Homo sapiens: one gene and its partners. The protein of the gene in region 1 purifies or fractionates together with the protein of each later gene. This does not show direct contact. Each region holds a gene or a part of one and is shown on either strand. Other genes may lie near its edges.

The links.
Region 2: the proteins of GNL2 (region 1) and DDX18 purify together in Homo sapiens (affinity purification with mass spectrometry; 2 studies listed by BioGRID and IntAct, with this or other methods). This does not show direct contact.
Region 3: the proteins of GNL2 (region 1) and DDX55 purify together in Homo sapiens (co-immunoprecipitation; 2 studies listed by BioGRID and IntAct, with this or other methods). This does not show direct contact.

Annotation. Positions count from the first base shown.
Region 1 is NC_000001.11:37,589,334-37,592,985, forward strand, and holds part of GNL2 (nucleolar GTP-binding protein 2), read right to left. Parts: intron 3,474-3,652; coding exon 3,379-3,473; intron 1,513-3,378; coding exon 1,373-1,512; intron 1-1,372. UniProt on the Homo sapiens protein: GTPase that associates with pre-60S ribosomal subunits in the nucleolus and is required for their nuclear export and maturation.
Region 2 is NC_000002.12:117,824,599-117,828,250, reverse strand, and holds part of DDX18 (ATP-dependent RNA helicase DDX18), read right to left. Parts: coding exon 3,543-3,652; intron 3,312-3,542; coding exon 3,150-3,311; intron 2,805-3,149; coding exon 2,652-2,804; intron 1,983-2,651; coding exon 1,869-1,982; intron 1-1,868. UniProt on the Homo sapiens protein: ATP-dependent RNA helicase that plays a role in the regulation of R-loop homeostasis in both endogenous R-loop-prone regions and at sites of DNA damage.
Region 3 is NC_000012.12:123,608,496-123,612,147, forward strand, and holds part of DDX55 (ATP-dependent RNA helicase DDX55), read left to right. Parts: intron 1-184; coding exon 185-334; intron 335-1,443; coding exon 1,444-1,633; intron 1,634-3,652. UniProt on the Homo sapiens protein: Probable ATP-binding RNA helicase. Has ATPase activity and is involved in the maturation of precursor large subunit rRNAs.

The DNA of each region.
Region 1 (3,652 bases):
TTGCTCTGTCGCCTGGGCTGGCACGCAGTGGCGCAATCTCGGCTCACTGCAAGCTCTGCCTCCCGGGTTCATATCATTCTCCTGCCTCAGCCTCCTGAGTAGCTGGGACTACAGGTGCCCGCCACCACGCCCGGCTAATTTTTTTTTGTATTTTTAGTAGAGACGGGATTTCACGTGTTAGCCAGGATGGTCTCAATCTCCTGACCTTGTGATCCACCCGCCTTGGCTTCCCAAAGTGCTGGGATTCAGGCGTGAGCCACCGCGCCCAGCCTGAACTATTTAACCCACGTATGCATGTCAATGTTTTTCTCCCCTCCTCATACTGGAACTGAAGCTTACGTACTGGCTACATTTCTGGGAATTTATTATTCAATGCAAGTAAAAATAAGCAGACAAACAACAGATTCTTTCTTTGTTCTGTGTGAAACTCATTCCACTCAACCCAGATTGAATCCTTACTGCACTTCAAATTTTAGCAATTGACAACCAATGTGACCAGCACCCCTTCCTTCAGCTGAGAAAAAATCTCAAGGATCTCACAAAAGCTGAACGTACGCAACACCAAAGTTCTACCAACTCAATCCTAATTCTACGCTGTCCCAAAGTTTGATGGAATTACCACTTAAAACAAGTTTGCCTACCAAAATAAATAATATTACTAATAGCTGTTATCAATTTAGCTCTTATTAGGTGGTGTGCTATGTGCTCACTATGGGCCAAGTGCTTTACAGATGCTTCATCTGTAGCCAATAACCCAAGGAGGTCGGTTATCTATACTTTCTGTTTTTTTTAGACGGAGTTTCGCTCCTGTTGCCCAGGCTGGAGTGCAATGGCACGATCTTGGCTCACTGCAATCTCTGCCTCCCAGGTTCAAGCGATTCTCCTGCCTCAGCCTCTCCTGAGTAGCTGAGATTACAGGTATGCACCACCACGCCTGGCTAATTTTGTATTTTTAGTAGAGACAGGGTTTCTTCTTGTTGGTCAGGTTGGTCTCAAACTCCTGACCTCAGGTGATCCGCCTGCCTGAGCCTCCCAAGTGCTGGGATTACAGGCGTGAGCCACTGTGTCCGACCTATCTATACTTTCAAGGCAAAGAAGTTAAAGTTCATGGAGAAACCCAACTAAGGGCACAGGAAGGGATAGAGCAAGGATTAAAATTCAGGTCTCAACTCCAAAACCTGTGCTTTGATCCACTACACTACTGCACCTCATACTAAACATGAAAAGGTGAAAAGAGAGGTCTTAGAAAGTTCATCATTGCTACATTAAAGTCACTATTTTCTAAGGAAAAACAAAAGACAAATATGTTAGAGAGGGATCTGCATGGAGTTTGCCCAGGAAATTCCATCACCAGGGATATCCTACATCTTACATGAGGCCGGATTCGATCATGGAGAAGAGACATTGGTAACTTGCTTTGCTTCATGACAACTTTGTATGGATCCTTCATAACTGTATCCATTTCCTCTTGAAATTTTTGTAATGATGACTGCTTAATCACACGTGTGTTTCCTGTTTTACAAATAAAGAATGTTGCCACTTAGTTAATATTTGCGCATCCATCTTCCACTGACACGGTGAAAGGCAAGATTTTAAATTACCCTCACTTACCCAAGCACCTGATCCATCCATCCCTTGGAGCTGTTTTCAAACTTAAAAGAGGAAAAAACCAAAAAACTGCCTCTCCCGCACTTGCACACTATGAACTATTCCACAAATCCAGACCCACAAAGGGTTTCAATAGTTTTCCAAGTCCAGTTTCCTAACTAAATGAAACTGAGAAATAAATAGCGTGGAATGGAACTGAGATCTGTCAAATGTCCTACTACCTGCTAGATCTAGCAGAGAAACCTGGAGCCAATCACAGCTGATCAGTCAGTATAGACAGAGAATCTTGAAACACTGAAATTTGAGTCATAGTTAGCCACTTTTAGGGTTATGAGGATTCAAAGGGACTATTAACCAATGAGTCCATGCAAGGGAACAAGATAGAGCCCTGCACCACCACCTGGAAAACATCTTGTGAGGGAGACCCTGAAAAGCATTCAATTAAACAGCATGCTGCGGCATAAATGCAAAACAGCAAGGTGGTAATGACGGTAGCAAGTAATGCTTATATTATACTCACTATTTGCTAGGCGCTATTCTAAGCACTTTATATATATTTACTCTTTTTTTTTTTTTTTTTTTGAGATGGAGTCTCACTCTGTCACCCAGGCTGGAGTGCAGTGGCACAATCTCAGCTCACTGCAACCTCTGCCTCCTGGGCTCAAGGGATTCTCCTGCCCCAGCCTCCCAAGTAGCTGGGATTACAGGTGCCCACCACAACACCTGGCTAATTTTTGTATATTTAGTAGAGATGGGGGTTTCACTGTGTTGGCCAGGCTGGTCTCGAATGCCTGACCTCAAGTGATTCACCAGCCTTGGCCTCCCAAAGTGCTGGGATTACAGGCGTGAGCCACTGCGCCCTGCCTGTATTTACTCATTTGATTACCATGACAGTCTTATGAGATAGGTTTCATCTTATTCTCATGTTAGGGATGAGAAAACTGATGAACAGACAGACTTAATAACTTGCCCACTGGCACATAAATGACAGAACTAGAATTCAAACCCAGGCAGTCTAATCGAGTCACAGTACCCAGCAGCCATGCTAAATGCTTCTCTGCAGAGTTTTGACACCTTTCTGTGTTGCAGTTCTTAGGAAGTATCCCACTGAAAGTATAAGAGACTCAAAGATAGCTGCCACCTGCCCCCAAGGACAGAGGTCAAACACCAAGCAAACACTGGGGTCTGATCATCTAAAGTGCCCATACATTTACCAGTGGCTAAGGGCAAAGTTAAGAGCCCAGACTGAAATGAGACAGGGAGTTTTCCAAGGAAGAAGCTGTGATCACCCTGAGACTGAAGATACTCTATTCACTGTTGGACAGTTCAACAGTGAGACCCTTTAATTGTCACCCAAGTTCAAATAAAAACCCCATTAAGAAGTATTTCAGAGGAACTTCGGGCTAATGCACTTACCCTGAAGGATATATGCACAAAACCTACAAGGCCACCTCTCCAACAGTATCTCTTTAGGAAAGCAGAAAAGATTAAGATGAGCATTCTAAGGTCTGTGAATGCTAGTCATTAAGGATGGTCTTATCTGCTTAAGAGGGTTCAATTACAATTACTAATGGTGAGCGCTCTTCAAAAAGAAGTTATTTATTAAATTGACCACCACTACTTTTCCCAGTAATTCTTCTTATCCCTTTCTCAGATAATCCTTGCCGGTTTCACTCACCAAAAACTCCTGCTGTTTAGACATTTAAACATCCTAGCCGTTTCCACTCAGCATATATTTTGTAGAGCAAAGTAACAGGGGATAATACTCACCAAACCATTTAATATTTGGCTCTACTCTTGCCACTGTGCCAGAAGCCACCGTTGATTGATATTGCAGGGGTTTAATTATTTTACCACGACTGTTCCTAAATTGAGGAAAGAACAGATATTGGTTGACAACAGAAAAATGGCAACAGCGAAGTTTGATTTACAGAATATATTTTCCATCAAAAGGACTTCTTACTTTGGTTTTAAATGATCATGAAATACCAATTCCAGTAAACACAAAGTACTTCTACATTTGAAACAGATTGCCCAAAAGCCA
Region 2 (3,652 bases), on another chromosome or scaffold:
TCCCATTTGTCAATTTTGGCTAGGACTAATATCCAGAATCTACTAAGAACTTAAACAAATTTACAAGAAAAAATCAAACAACCCAATCAAAAAGTGGGCGAAAGATATGAACACACACTTCTCAAAAGAAGACATTTAGGCAGCCAACAGACATGAAAATATGCTCATCATCACTGGCCATCAGAGAAATCCAAATAAAAATCACAGTGAGATACCATCTCACACCAGTTAAAATGGCGATCATTAAAAAGTCAGGAAACAACAGGTGCTGGAGGAGATGTGGAGAAACAGGAACACTTTTACACTGTTGGTGGGACTGTAAACTAGTTCATCCATTGTGGAAGACAGTGTGACGATTCCTCAAGGATCTAGACCTAGAAATACCATTTGACCCGGCCATCCCATTACTGGGTATATACCCAAAGGATTATAAATCATGCTGCTATAAAGACACATGCACATGTATGTTTATTCACAATAACAAAGACTTGGAACCAACCCAAATGCCCATCAATGACAGACTGGATTAAGAAAATGTGGCACATACACACCATGGAATACTATGCAGCCATAAAAAAGGATGAGTTCATGTCCTTTGTAGGGACATGGATGACACGGGAAACCATCATTCTGAGCAAACTATTGCAAGGACAGAAAACCAAACACCGCATGTTCTCACTCACAGGTGGGAAATGAACAATGAGAACACTTGGACACAGGGTGGTGAATATCACACACCGGGGCCTGTCGTGGGGTGGGGGGAGGGGGAAGGGATAGCATTAGGATATATACCTAACGTATATGACGAGTTTATGGGTGCAGCACACCAACATGGCACATGAATACATATGTAACAAACCTGCACATGGTGCACATGTACCCTAGAACTTAAAGTGTAATAATAATAAAAAAAGAAAGAAAGAAAGAAATGTCAACCTGATGAGCACCTGTGCTGTGGGAACAAGGAGGCAGGAGATCAGCGATGGCTTCCCAGCAAAGACAGAGGCGAGCTGAAACCAAGCATTCTGGACAAAGTGTGCAAAAGCTGTAGAGCAATTTCAGGGAACTGCCTGCAGTTACAGGGTAGAGGAAGCCTATCATCAAGACTATGCCAGAAAGGCCAATGAGGATGTAAATGTCAGGCAGGAGAAGGCCTGATATGCATCCCCCACATGGCCTAGCAATGAAGAGGCCACTTAGGGTCCTGATGGATTCAATTCTGGTGTGATAGTAGAAAGCTAAAGCCAAATTAGGCTGGTTAGGGACTGAGAGGGAGGTAAATGGCAAGAATATAAGCCATTTTTCCAGTAAGGCTGACTGAGGAAAGGCAACAGACAGTAGCTCCTGCAGGCAGGGGTAGAAGAACAGGTTTAAGGTTGAAGTTACTTTTTTACAGTGAGAAATTTGAGATGGTAAAGCGCCAACCGCAAGGAAGAGACTGTAGGCCAAGAGTTGATGAATAGGAGACAGAGGGCAGGGGAGGAGGCAGAGGCTAGAGCGAACAAGGATTCCCCACTGCTTCACATGAGGTAAGAGGAAAGAAGGGGAGCAGAAGCAGAGATGACTAGGTGTGAGGGAGCTTCAAAGGAGTGGAGAAGGTTTCAAAGAGGGCTGGAGGGAACAGGAAAGGAGAGGCTGGGACACAGAGGTGTTGCTGGGTAACAGAGCTAGAAAGCCGAGCCATGTGGGCAGTTCCTTCTGTGCTCACTTCTTGGGCTAGAAGTACATAAAACCTTACTTGCTTAATTGCCATAAGAATGGTTGTAACAGCACTGGCCAGACTCGAGACTCCTCTGACACATGTAGAAATGTTGCTTGCTAACAATCCCTACACCAAGAGAAATCTTTCTCCAAGTACAGATCTTTACCTTGGATTGTTTCAAGTAGCGAAGAAAACCCAATTCTTCTGGGCGCAAAATGAGCAAGGCATGCCCTCTCCCATTTAGGCCTCTGGCTGTTCTACCCACACGATGAATATATTCCTTTGGTGGAGAAAGAAAATCTGAGTTAACGCAGTGACTTCCACATGAGCCCATTTGCGTATCTGCATCCTGAGTATGTGCATGTCTGTACTGAGATGGTGTAGTCCCACGGTGCTGGGCCACACACACCTTCACCACACCCCCACAAAGCTGGGCCAGCAATCGCTCTGTGCACATCACCCCCAATAGGCCAATGATTGAGGCCCAAAAAAAAAAAAAAAAAAAAAAAAAAAAGGCTGGACATGATGTTTGCATTAACAGCGATCTAATAAAATGAGTATTATGTGTGCTTCATCATCAAAACGGCTTTAATCCAGTGTTTGTTGAAAATACTTCTCAATGAAGCTTATTCTACCACATATACTACAGAAGTTTATCTACTTCCTTAAGCAATTTTATTTCCTTCAGGCATCTGCTGTTCTTAAGAGATCATTCCAAGGATCTCATTTTCATAACTTAAGTCCCACTGATCCTTTTCAATCCTCTGGCACAGCCCGTTTGAGCCCTGAAAAGCCTTAAGTACTTTTCAATACCAGAGAAATACTGCAGTCACTGTATAGTAGGGATCTTTACCTTGAATGTGGAATGCAGTTTCCGTCAGGGAACTGGGAGAATAAGTGAACTTTTAATGCAGAGTCATTCTGAAGATATTCCAAAGATGCCAGTTACCTTAGGGTCATCCGGAGGGTCATACTGAACAATCCAGTCGACTTCAGGAATGTCTAGTCCTCTCGCTGCCACATCCGTACACAATAGTGTTCCCGAATCTGCATTGCAGAACTGGAAGAATGTGGTTGTACGCTTATTTTGCTTTTGCTTTCCCTAGAATTAAATAAAAACATCCATTAGAGCTGGAATCTTGAGGAAGACTAGCAGTAGAACCCCCAAATTGTGGAACTGTTACCCTATTTCGAGCTCATCCCTTGGCCTATGTCCTATTTCCCCAACTGTTCCGCAAGCCCCTCAAGGAGGATGGTGTCTTGCACTCTTCGAAAGTCCTCATACCCCTCCACACCCAGCAGCGCTCCCCCACACAGGATCCATCATCTAGTGGTGATCAAACTACTCAGAACAATGTTTCCAGGAGAGGGCAATACCTCCAATCCTACAATCTATAGGATTTAATAAGCATACCCTGTTTTCAATGAGCTCATCATCATCACTTACATGAATGGCCAAGACGGGCAAATCAATGTAGTTCAGCAACTCATAGTGGTATTTCACAGACATACAAGATGAAAAGAAGACCATAAGCTTCTTCTTTCGGTTCTTCTTAAGGAATGTAAAGAGCAGAAGGAATCTCTTTTCAGAAGGACAAACAACATATCCCTAGAAAGCGTTTAAGCAGACAGATACAAATGAACCAAGTGGACATTTTCCATTTCCTAACTTGTGTAATTTCATCAAGAGCACTGATAAACACAGTGTGTAAACTGTCATGCCTCACCTACAGCATTTTAAAAGTTCATTAACCCATTTGCTTTCTGAATGATCCTTCCAACAATTACATAAAAACACCAAGTAAGATCCCTACAGTTTTCAGTTATTGATAAAAAGTACCTGTTCAAGACCATCCACTGTTGCATTCGCTTTATCATCATCAACGCCAACATACAATGGCTCCTTTTTCAGAGAAATCCTTGCCAGGTCTTCAACTTTTCGAGTTTGGG
Region 3 (3,652 bases), on another chromosome or scaffold:
AGATCCCGTCTCACCACAGCCCTCAGTCTTTCTACCCTGCAGCACTCTTCTACTCTCATGCTCTTCGTTCTCTTCACTAGGGCTTAAATGACTTTGGGGGGATATAAAACTTGGTATTTTGGTAATCATCAACCACATTCCCAAGATCCAGAGAGTTTGGTAAATGTTAACTTTCTTTCCAAAGTGGGAACATCATTGTGGCCACTCCAGGCCGCTTGGAGGACATGTTCCGGAGGAAGGCCGAAGGCTTGGATCTGGCCAGCTGTGTGCGATCCCTGGATGTCCTGGTGTTGGATGAGGCAGACAGACTTCTGGACATGGGGTTTGAGGCAAGGTACTGGACTTTGGACTTCACTGGCTTGAGTGGGCAGATGATACTAATACAAAAGGGGAGCAAAATGGAGTTTACTGTTTCATGACTAGGTATTTTTATTTTTTATTTTCATTTTTATTTATTTTTTATTTATTTGTTTATTAGAGACAGGGTCTTGTGCTGTCACCCAGGCTGGAGTGCAGTGGTGTGATTATGTTCACTGCAGCCTCAACCTCTCGGGCTCAGATGATCCTCCTGCATCAGCCTCCCGGGTAGCTGGGATTACAGGTGCACACCACCATGCCTGGATGGTTTTTTTATTTTTTGCAGATGAGGTTTTGCCATGTTGCCCAGTCTGTTCTCAAACTCCTGGACTTAAGTGATCCTCCTACCTAGGGTACCCAAAGTGCTAGGATTACAGGTGCCAGCCACCATGCCTGGCCTAAGTATTTTTATTAACCACATTTTAATTTCAAATCATTAAGTAGTTTGAGCTTTCAAATTCTACCACGTGATTTTATTCCAGTTCTATCTTTGATCTTAAAATGCACTTTCCTTCAAGTTTTTTTTTTTTTTTTTTTTTTGAGACAGGGTCTCACTCTGTCATCCAGGCTAGAATGCAGTGGCATGATTTCGGGTCATTGCGACCTTTACTTCCTGGGCTTAAGTGATCCTCCCACCTCAGCCTCCTGAGTCATCTGGGACTACAGGCACATGCCATCATGCTTTTTTTTTTTAATTTTTGGCAGAGACAAGATCCCATTATGTTGCCCAGGTTGGTCTCAAACTCCTGGGCTCAAGAGATCTTCCCATCCCAGTCTCCCGAAGTGCTGGGATTACAAGCATGAGCCATCACACCTGGCAGTTTTGTTGTTTTTTAATAAACAGCTTTATGGGATATAATTCACATATCATTATAATTGTATGCTAAAATTTGAGGAACCTTGGAAAAATGAAAGTATAAAGAAGAAACAAAGAATCACCTATAATCTCACCTCCCAGTGTATGTGCTATAAATATTTTGATGGCTTCACTTTCAGTCTTTTTGAATACCTGTTTAGTATCGTGAAGCACTGTGTGTTGATTCTGCTGGCAAGTGAGCGGTTAAGTGTGAGCCCTCTTTTTATCAGCATCAACACCATTCTGGAGTTTTTGCCAAAGCAGAGGAGAACAGGCCTTTTCTCTGCCACTCAGACGCAGGAAGTGGAGAACCTGGTGAGAGCGGGCCTCCGGAACCCTGTCCGGGTCTCAGTGAAGGAGAAGGGCGTGGCAGCCAGCAGTGCCCAGAAGACCCCCTCCCGCCTGGAAAACTACTACATGGTAAGCGCCTGGGCTTGCTTCTTACTCAGCGATAATGACCAGTGCTCATTTTATGGAAATTGTACTGGTAGAATAAATATGTGAGACCCTGTAGCACCTATGAAATGCATTTGGGGACAGAGCTAGCTAGGGCAAATGGCCTGAGTGGTCCTACTCATTGAATGAATAAGTTAAATTGGACATAAATGTATTTTAAGCACAGTCTCTAAGGACAGAGTCTCTGAACCTCCTACCCTCAAGTGACCAAATGTTTCTATTGTACATGCTTGGGGTGTGCTGGGTGCAGCCATGACTAAGCTCTGTAGTTCCTGGGCCCGTCAGAACAGCCTGTCTGACAGAGAAGGGCATAGTTAGATGTGCAGGTGGAACACAGAAAATCAAATGACAGACTCACTCCTAAGGAGACTTTGTGGGGTGGAAATGTTCTGCTCCGTAAATGTTGTGTATTTTTGACCTGCATCAAATATGCTGAGTTTCTTTTTTTTTTTTTTTTTTTTTTTTGAGACAGAGTCTGGCTCTGTCGCCCAGGCTGGAGTGCAGTGGCGCGATCTCAGCTCACTGCAAGCTCCGCCTCCTGGGTTCATGCCATTCTCCTGCCTCAGCCTCCCGAATAGCTGGGACTACAGGCGCCCGCCACCACGCCCGGCTAATTTTTTGTTAGCCCTGTTAGCCAGGATGGTCTCCATCTCCTGACCTGGTGATCCACCTGCCTCGGCCTCCCAAAGTGCTGGGATTACAGGTGTGAGCCACCGCGCCCGGCCGTTTTTTTTTGTTTGTTTTTTTTTGTTTTGAGACGGGGTCTCACCCTGTCACCCAGGCTGGAGTGCAATGGCACGATCTCGGCTCACTGCAACCTCTGCCTCCTGGTTCAAGCAATTCTTCTGCCTCAGTCTCCCGAGTAGCTGGGATTACAGGCATGTGCCACCATGCCCAGCTAATTTTTTGTATCTTTAGTAGAGGTGGGGTTTCACCACATTGGACAGGCTGGTCTTGAACTCCTGACCTCATGATCCTCCTGCCTCAGCCTCCCAAAGTGCTGGGATTACAAGAATGAGCCATCATGCCTGGCCCAAATATGCTGAATTTCTAGTAGTAAATACTGGCTGCTGGCTTCTGTAGTTTCTTCACAAAGAAGTAGATGGGCTTTTGGCAACTTGATTGTTTAGTAATGAGGCCACTCCTCACCCCTGTTCTGTTCTGTCCCATTGCTGGGATGGGCCAGGAGGCACAAATGTAGAGAGCACAGGCTGCAGGGGAGGCAGCACCATCAGGGCGAGGAGGCACCCACAGGCCAGTGCCACTGCTGACGGTACACTGGCCCACCAGCCCGGGGCTGGGGCTTTTCTTTCTCTTTTGCAATAAGCTTTCTCAGGTTAAATTTTTCGTTAGGCCTGGAGGGGTTCCCTAGCTCCTGAACATGTCTGCTGTTCAAAATGAAGGAGGCTGGTCTCGAAACCAGAATGTTCCTATTGCTGCAGACTGTGAGGTTGTCGAGGCTGCTCTCCGGTTTGTGTCAATTTGTAGGCAGATTAAAGGTAGAATGAGTTTGCAAATGAGAAACTGCACCTAGTGTAACTGGAGAGTGTTGTCAAAATCAGATAGGCTCATCAGAAGTGGGAGTTGTAGTTGCCATTGATGTTTCTGACAAGCTGGACTGGGTGAGGGAGGAGGCTAGCTCTTCCCAAGCAGAGGGAAGGACTCTGCATAGGGTAGTGTGGAGAGCATGGGCGCTAGAGCAGGACTGCCTGGTGCATATCTTGGCTTTGGCCCCTACCAGATTTAACCGATGAACTTAGAGGTCCTTACTTGTCAAATGGGGGCCACAGTAGTATACAGCTTCGTAGGGTTGCTGCAGGATTAATTAATTAATCCATGCAAAAATGTTCATGATAGTGCTTAGTACACAATAAGTATGGGTTGAGCATTCCTAACTTGAAATTCCAAAATCCAAAATCCTCCAAAATCTGAAGCTTTTTTGAGTGCCAACATGATGCTGAGAGGAAATACTCGGAGCATTTT